2 separate regions of the Homo sapiens genome follow, and region 1 is linked to region 2. The links come from fine-mapping of genetic effects on gene expression. Tissue or cell type: blood mononuclear cells. Region 2 holds a variant in brackets; the other region holds the start of a gene. All regions are shown on one strand. Distances are from middle to middle. Region 1 holds the start of SH3BGRL (SH3 domain binding glutamate rich protein like). Region 2 overlaps LOC105373284 (a long non-coding RNA gene).

What was found. PIP is the estimated chance that this variant, and not a neighbour inherited with it, causes the effect.
Region 1: SH3BGRL starts here. The variant in region 2 is the best candidate, but not a certain one, in a credible set for the expression of SH3BGRL in blood mononuclear cells (TOPMed, PIP 0.61).

Annotation. Positions count from the first base shown.
Region 1 is chrX:81,199,922-81,203,921 of GRCh38, forward strand. SH3BGRL (SH3 domain binding glutamate rich protein like) reads left to right here and starts at 2,181. Exons shown (of 4, transcript NM_003022.3): 1 at 2,181-2,324. The coding sequence starts at 2,280. HMGN5 (high mobility group nucleosome binding domain 5) reads right to left here and starts at 1,992. Exons shown (of 7, transcript NM_030763.3): 1 at 1,816-1,992. RefSeq lists enhancers at 1,837-2,086, 2,207-2,376.
Region 2 is chrX:81,362,678-81,367,221 of GRCh38, forward strand. It overlaps LOC105373284 (a long non-coding RNA gene), which reads left to right. Exons shown (of 2, transcript XR_007068280.1): 2 at 550-3,538. Among named protein-coding and RNA genes, the nearest start is that of SH3BGRL, 160 kb to the left of the region's middle. The variant C/T (reference allele first, on the strand shown) is at 2,413.

The sequences.
Region 1 (4,000 bases), 160 kb before region 2:
TCATCAGAGTGAACAGGCAACCTACAGAATGGGAGAAAATTTTTGCAATCTACTCATCTGACAAAGGGCTAATATCCAGAATCTACGAAGAACTTAAACAAATTTACAAGAAAAAAACAACCCCATCAAAATGTGGGCAAAGGATATGAACAGACATTTCTCAAAAGAAGACATTTATGCAGCCAACAGACATATGCAAAAATGCTCATCATCACTGGTCATGAGAGAAATGCAAATCAAAACCACAATGAAATACCATCTCATGCTAGTTAGAATGGCAATCATACAACAGATGCTGGAGAGGGTTTGGAGAAATAGGAATGCTTTTATACTGTTGGTGGGAGTGTAAATTAGTTCAACCATTGTGGAAGACAGTGTGGCGATCCCCCAAGGATCTAGACTAGAAATGTCATTTGACCCAGCAATCTCATTACTGAGCATATACCCAAAGGATTATAAATCTTTCTATAATAAAGACACATGCACATGTATGTTTATTGCAGCACTATTCATAATAGCAAAGACTTGGAACCAACTCAAATGTCCCAGTGATAGACTGGATTAAGAAAATGTGGCACATGTACACCATGGAATACTATGCAGCCATAGAAAAGGATGAGTTCATGTCCTTTGCAGGGACATGGATGAAGCTGGAAACCATCATTCTAAGCAAACTATCACAAGGACAGAAAACCAAACACCACATGTTCTCACTCATATGTGGGAGTTGAACAATGAGAACACATGGACACAGGACAGGGAACATCACACCCCGGGGCCAGTCGGGGGGTGGGGGGCTGGAGGAGTGATAGCATTAGGTGAAATACCTAATGTAAACAACGAGTTGATGGGTGCAGCAAACCAACATGGCACATGTATACCTATGTAACAAACCTGCACGTTGTGCACATGTACCCTAGAATTTAAAGTATAATTAAAAAAAAATAAGAAGGTGGCCTCTGGAGTTCCTAACTCTGGAATGTACTAACCATATGATTTTAGGAAAACTATTTTTCTGAGTTTCAGTTTCTTCATCTGTAAAATTAATGTAATAGTACCCACCTCTTGAGGTTGTTTTAAGGACAACATGTAAAGAGATTAATTTGGAATTAGTATTTAAGACAGATTGGAGAAGGGAAAACCTGTGGGTAGGGAACAGTTAACAAAGCTATTGTAAGCACTGAGCCTAGGCAAAGACAGTAAACCACTAGACTGGAGACAGTGGAAAAACAGCAAAGGAAAAGAAGTAGGACAAGCGACTGACTCCTCTCCACTCTCATTCATCTTGCAAATTCCTTTTTTTCTGTTCATTTAACATAATCTGGGAACCTAAAACTACACTTTGAAGTATATGGTCTGTCTCTGGACATTATTAACTGTTTGCTCATTTCCTTAGAGCTACAAATAACCATCTGATCTCTCTCTTCACCATTTCAACATCTGCAATATGTTCTCCCAAATCCCTTACTTCAGTCAGTTAAAAAGCAAAACAAAACAAAAATCATCCATCTTTTTACACAATATTTTCAATCTTTTCTTTGTAATTTATTCCTTCATTCTTAAACTTGCCAATCAGGCCTCCTGCAAATTCCCACGGAAGCAGGGTTCCCTAATTTAACAAAACACAAAATTCAAAAAGAAAACCAATCCTGCCATTTCTGGGCTTAAGGAAACCTGAAACTTTCCTTCAAAACTCTGCAGCATTGCTCAGTACTTTAGTGCCTAATTCCTACAACGAGCTAAGATCAGAAAAATCACTACGTAATAGGAATCTTAAAATGCGCAAGGCTTTGAGAACATGGGTTTTCAACATACAGCTTGCTCTTTCAGGATCTGTCTTCTTATTTGCATATATTTCTGAGCAGGAAGTTATGCGCAGTACTTTTAGTCTCCGCGTGAAAAGGTCCTTCATGCTAATCTAATTCAATTCAGTTCTCCTTTTTCTTTCTTCTTCTCCTCGCCCTCTTCTCAGGGAAGGAATCGTCAAAAATCAATGTTTCAACAGATCTCGCGGTGCTATTCGAGATTCCCTATTAAAAAAAAATAGAATTGATGCAAACAGCCTGTTCCTTCCGGGGTTTTGGGCTGGAACTGCAGCGCTTAGAGAGCTCGGTGGAAGCTGCTAAAGGCGGAGGCGGGGCTCTGGCGAGTTCTCCTTCCACCTTCCCCCACCCTTCTCTGCCAACCGCTGTTTCAGCCCCTAGCTGGATTCCAGCCATTGCTGCAGCTGCTCCACAGCCCTTTTCAGGACCCAAACAACCGCAGCCGCTGTTCCCAGGATGGTGATCCGTGTATATATTGCATCTTCCTCTGGCTCTACAGCGGTAAGGAGAGTGGGGAGTCCACCTTTGTTGTTTTCCTACACACCAGTCCTCTGCTGCCCCAGAACCATTAAAATGCAGAAGTTCCTCTGGCAGCTTCTCCTTTGGAAGACTCATGCATCCCCGATCCCACCCTTCTTCTTCCCTTTTTTCCCTTTGTTGCATCGATTTCATTTTTTTTTTTTTCCACATAGAGTTCAGCTTTGTTTGCTTCGTGACGTTGGGGGGCACATTTCTGCTTTGAAGGAAAACGAAAGCTACCAAGTTTTGGGAGATGGGAGATGGTGCTATACGGTCTTTAGGGTTACGTGAAGTCAAGTAAAATCGCACACTGGTGAGTTTCAAGAGTGAGACATTTGATGAATACGCCCTAAGTACTGAGACAAGGAGGAGTGCACTTCTGTAAAGGATGGGGGTACACATGCTGTAACTGGTGGGGATTGAGTGGAGGCCTACCGAGGCATTGTAATTATTCTGGGTGAGTGAGACCCTGGTAATAGAGTTATTTTGAGAGTGTGTAGAAGAAAGTGGTTAACTTGAGCTTGAAGGCCTGTTAGAACTAGACAAATTGGGAGGGGAAGTTGGTAACAATGACGTAAATTTTTTTTTAACTTAATATGACACGAGATTCAGTTTTCCCCCCATATTGTCCCTTATTTTGACTGTTTCTATTCTTTCAAAATATTTTACTTTTAAATTTCTCTCACTGCTTCAAGTATATTGAGAACTGGATAGGGAGCTCAGTGGCTTCTTGTGTAGTGGCAGCCTGAGTTGCTGCTGCTTCAAATGATAGGACTTTCTCTTTCATGGATTCACTTACTCTTAATTTAGAATAACAAATTTTCAGCAGCTGTCGGGAGAATATGATAAACTGGGGTGCAAGATGAGTGTATATCCATGATAAATGAAAGTGCTTCTGCTTTTTACAACTCAAGAGAAAGGCAGACAGTGGCAAGAACAGATGTGTGGGTTCAGATTGTAGGGTATAGGAACCCCTTCCCTCTTCTTGAGCTTTAGAGCAGCAGCTAATCCAGGTTGTTGTGTGTTTTTATTTTTTGGCTTGTTTATTTACACCTGAGAGGATGTGGAATGGAAGTGGAGGTTATGTTAAATCACAAGAACCTTGATATTTGAACTTTGTCTTCTCTGGCCACCATGTGTGGATATGTTTATGCAATTTTGGAATATCAGAAAATTTAATCTTACATTTTTTGAATAAGTTTAGGTTAAAAAAAAGAACACCTTTTATATTTCCTTTGGACCTAATTTTATGAGCCTCTTGCTTTATTATTTTCCATACATGTTGTCTAATATTTCAAAGTAAAATTTGAGTTGCTCAGAGTCTCAACTCAATCCAATAATTGTAAAGTCCAACTTAATGCCTTTAGTTAAACCCCTAATGAGACTGAACAGATCAGGCAGTTAGTTTTGCTTTGGGAGTCATACAGTTTCAATACTGTTATTTATTCTTTGCTTTCTCCTTCCTCTACCCCTTCTTTAAAAGTAGATTCAACAAGAAACTGCTTTCAGAATTTCTATTCAAGTAAGAATAACTGCACCTCTCTTTGTTAAGTCTTAAGTTTCCAAGAGCCTTAGAAATGGCTGCTGTCTTCTATTATTTCCTTTATTGGACTCCTTTTTTTTTTTATTTAGATTTCAACTTTTATTTTAGATTCAGA
Region 2 (4,544 bases):
TCAATCAACAAATTTGCAGGAGTCCAAACTGTATATAAATTTCCACATCTTATATACATTCTAAGGTATAGTAATTTACTTCAATCTATGACTCAAATGACATTAATTAAAAAGGATAGTTAAAACCAATTCCTTGACAGCTGCCTTCATTTTAAGTAGACTCTTTGAAGATAGAAAGTTTATCATTTCTAAATAAACCCTTAAAGATAGTTGAATATAATAATTATACATTTGTATGTTTGTACTTCTAACACTTGCATGTGCACCATATAATATTACACTGACAATAGTCCCGTGAAGATTCATTAAATGATGTGTGCAGTATCATCATTTAACTGCTGAAAAATTTGAGACCGCAAAATGTTAAATAAATTAGCTTATGTTAAAAGTTCATTGCAGAACGGAAACCCAGGTTTAGTTATTCCTGGTCCTATTTCCTAAACTTTGAGCAACACGGCTTCCCTAAATTACTTTTATTTCACGTAGGAGTTAAATACTTATTTGACATTTTTAATGTACATTGCCTTAATGAGTTATTTTATATTACAGGAATATACTAGAAACTTACTTTGTAAAACTTGTCTAACAAAATGCTTAGAGAAGCTTTCCTAATTGATCTTCTGTACAAAGAACAGAAATATGCAAAATTTTGCAAACCATTTACATGTAAGAAGACTGAAAAGGAAACTTGGAAAAAGAAGATTTTAGATAGAGAAGAAAATTCACTTTCCTCTGCTAAGATGGAAAATCAAGAAACAACTAGGAAAGAAAGTGTAACAGAGCAAAATGATGATACAGATCAAATAAAATCTGTGGATGAGACAACTGTAGCAAAATGCAAAGGTATTACCTCTTCCAGGAAATGTGTCAGTTGCGTTGCCCATTTCAAAGAGAGAAAAACATGATCAAAGACAACTAGATTTATATAGATCCTGGTTGTGTATGAGTATTTGTCACAATTATTCTGACCTACAGATTGGAGGTGACGATGTGAGGAACATGTGTGATTCAGGCTGCTTTACGGAACACACACATAATGATGTTTTTAATGGTCCCCTTTTGTTTTCAGTTGGTAGGCCACTGGGTCATTCTCCTGTCATTGGGCCTCTAGAGACATTACCTACCTCAAAATTATTGAATGGGGATGAAAGCCAAGAAAAAAGTATGTTGTTTCATAAACAGCCCCTCTCTAATTCTATGCTTAATACTTATATGGAAAGAAAGGTGGACTAGCTCTGCAAACAATTATTGGAAGAAAATCTCACCAGATGCCACTCTGTAACCAATCTTATGGCTTCCAATTTGCTAATGAATAATGTAAATTACATCAGCTTTCAAATCTCTCAAGAGCAGAACATTGAGTTATGGAAAGCTCAGGAAGCTGCCCTACACTCTACCACTATGTAATCTGTGTAACATTTCTCATGGAAAGAGTGGAAAGAGTTCTTAATTCAGTACCCCTGACTTACAAATATCGAACCAGACAAGTAGGGAACTTCTATCACATCTACAGTAGATAACAAATGTAGGTTGTTTGGACAGACTTAAGAGACTGCAATAACAAGAGTTTTTTCTAGCTTATCATGTCACATCTAGCCTTCTTTGGGGTGTGGTTATTATAGTTTTTGAGAAATGATTTGACCCATGGTACATCTGAATTCTTATAGGAGACAACTATAGTAACTACGTTTTAGAGTGCAAGTTCTTAATGTGTTGATATTTTAATAGTTGCCAAACTAAACTCTGTATGCGTTTACCTATTTAATTGTCACTGGCACCCCAAATCAATTACCTCAGTGTCGCACAGCTTTATTTACAACAAAAATGGGATGAGGAGTGGATTATTGCTCCAAGATACTGAAGGACCATGAGAAGGTATATCAGAGAGGGACATTTATTTCCCCACAAAAACGCATTTATACTGACAATCAAAATAGTCTAGGGGAAATTATGATATGTAGTTATGGATATGGATATCTATATCTGGATATCTATATGTGGATATCTATATCTGGATATCTATATGTGGATATCTATATCTGGATATCTATATGTGGATATCTATATATCAAGATTGAGTATGGGGACATATAAAAGGAAATACTTTAAACAAAAGTCAAATTTAAATGATGTTTGAAAGAAACATGGAGGGAGGGCTTAAGGAAAAATGGAAAATTTGTAAGTACCATTTATATTGAAACTTGGTGCTTTGGAACTTTCCTGGAACGAGCATTAACTGTTTTATATCACTGTTATCTCTGGTTGTTTTTAGAGATGGGAGGAAAAAAAACACACAGGTAGAGTGAAGAAAGTAGAGAACCACCATTTAGAAATAAAAAGGTTCTCAGCAACTTATTACACATCAGATTATCCTCAATCATGATCCTGGCAGTAGTTTATTATGGAAATTTT[C/T]GGATCCAAATTAAATAAATTAACAAAATATATCTAAAGTAACAGTATAATTTATTGCAGACTTGGAAAGAAGACTCCATACTTTTAATAGAAATAGGAAAATGATAGACATGCACTTCTGTGTTGTAAAATAAAATGGTATTAATTTCTGTTATAGAATTCTTACAATTGCATTATGCATTAATAAGATTTGTGCATTGACAATCATATATTCCCTTCCATCCCTTCCAATTTTTTCTTGGGTCTTTGATTAACTCTTGTAGAATGAGTCACTGTAATGCCCTAATAGCTCGTTTTTTATGATCACACAATACTTCGTTTATTTTCACCCTCTTCAAATGTATATGATCTAATAATAGTAAGTACCCCTGATTTGTCTTCTGTTTTTCTCTTTATTGCTCCCTTCCACACCATCCTCTACCATAACCATACCAATTAATGTTTATCATTCAGACATTTGATTCTGAAGAGACAATGAGTAAGAGTTTAAAGTAACTCAGTATCTTTAGATATTGAAAAAAAGTTGTATGTATATTGTCTTTTATGCTGTTAAATTTCGGCATTTTAATAGGAGAGTTACTAAAATTATGAAATATTAATGTTAACATTTACAAAAGTGAATTAAATATCATGGGACAGTATTACTAGTGTGGATTGTTTTCTTAGGTCCAGTAATATGTATTAATATTTTATGAAACAGATATATTCATAAAGTGTTGAAATTACATAGTATCATATACAAAACCACAGTATTTAGTATATATCAAATTTATAAATGCATTTAATTACGCTCTCATATTTAAAATTTCCCCCTCTTTATCTGTGTCATCAAAATATTTATCATCTAAAGATACTCACTTATGGTTAAAATGGTTTAAAAATATAATGCAATTCTTAAGTAAGGAAAGATGATGAATTTGGTGTTACGTTTTATCCTGACCTCATACCTACTGACTTCAGTGCTTGAATGAAATATGCATATGACGTTGTGATTTAGCATAGTTTGGCTTTAAGTAGTCATTCTTCATTCTGTTGTTCACCATCGGTATTATTTATATGACCATAATGTTCCCTTTCAAAACATTTTTTGAAATGTATGGAATAATAAATTTCTTTTTGTCTCACATTTGCAGAAGTTGAAAGTATTCGTTTTGTGCTTCTATGAATATACAAAATGTAAATGATTCAGTCGTTGGGGAGGATCATCATGTTTTCTGGTAGGAAAAAAAGTCAAGGAGTTTATGAAGGATGCTGAATACAATGTTGCTCCCTGCTTATATAGATCAGTTTAATTTACATCCCGTCTTTGGATTTCAGGTCACTATTGTGGGTCCCAAAGTAGATTTGACCAAGTCTCAGGAAGTTTTCTGTCAAGAGTGTCCTTTAAACACCAACACCTATTTAAGAGATACAGTCTATACTGTACTCCTGGAATTTTCAGGCTCATTTTGTCTTATAGGTTAGTCCTCAAAAGAAGCCAGTCTCCCCGAGGTTATTAAGACTGGACCTAACACTGTGATGGTCCATTCAAGGTTGTAAGCAGACTTTCTGGGTCTTACTAAAACTTGTTTTTGGAAATGGAGAAACAAAGTAAATAGTTCCTGCTTTGGGGATGGAAGTATCTAATACCACGAAATTATTTTCCTGTTAAAAAATTAAAGGAATATATTTTTTAAGATAGTTTACTTTGAAGAGGTAAATGGCTAACTTAGCATTATTACGTAATGTATGTGTGGATGAAGGGTGGAGAGGTGACTTGATGAGAATTAGTGTGTAGGATAAACTGATAAACTGGAATAATTGTGTAGTTAAAGGAATGATTTTTTTTAGTCAATGCAGAAAGAAATCAACAAATTAATATCAACAGATATCTATTAAATCAAATTAAATGTAGTTTAATGTTTTCATAACTAGTCACTTGCATGGAAATTTAGCCAGTCAACTATGTATGTGTGAAAATCCATGAAAAAATGAAATAATAATTTGAAAGCAAAATAGTTATCACAGTGTTAAAATTAAGCTAGGTGTCCTTTTATTACCTAGGGGCAATTTGGAGCTTTTGGTCCTCAGTTACATTGTTATGTTCTTTTCCTCAAGGTCTAGTAAATTTGTAAAAATGGCCTTATTATTAC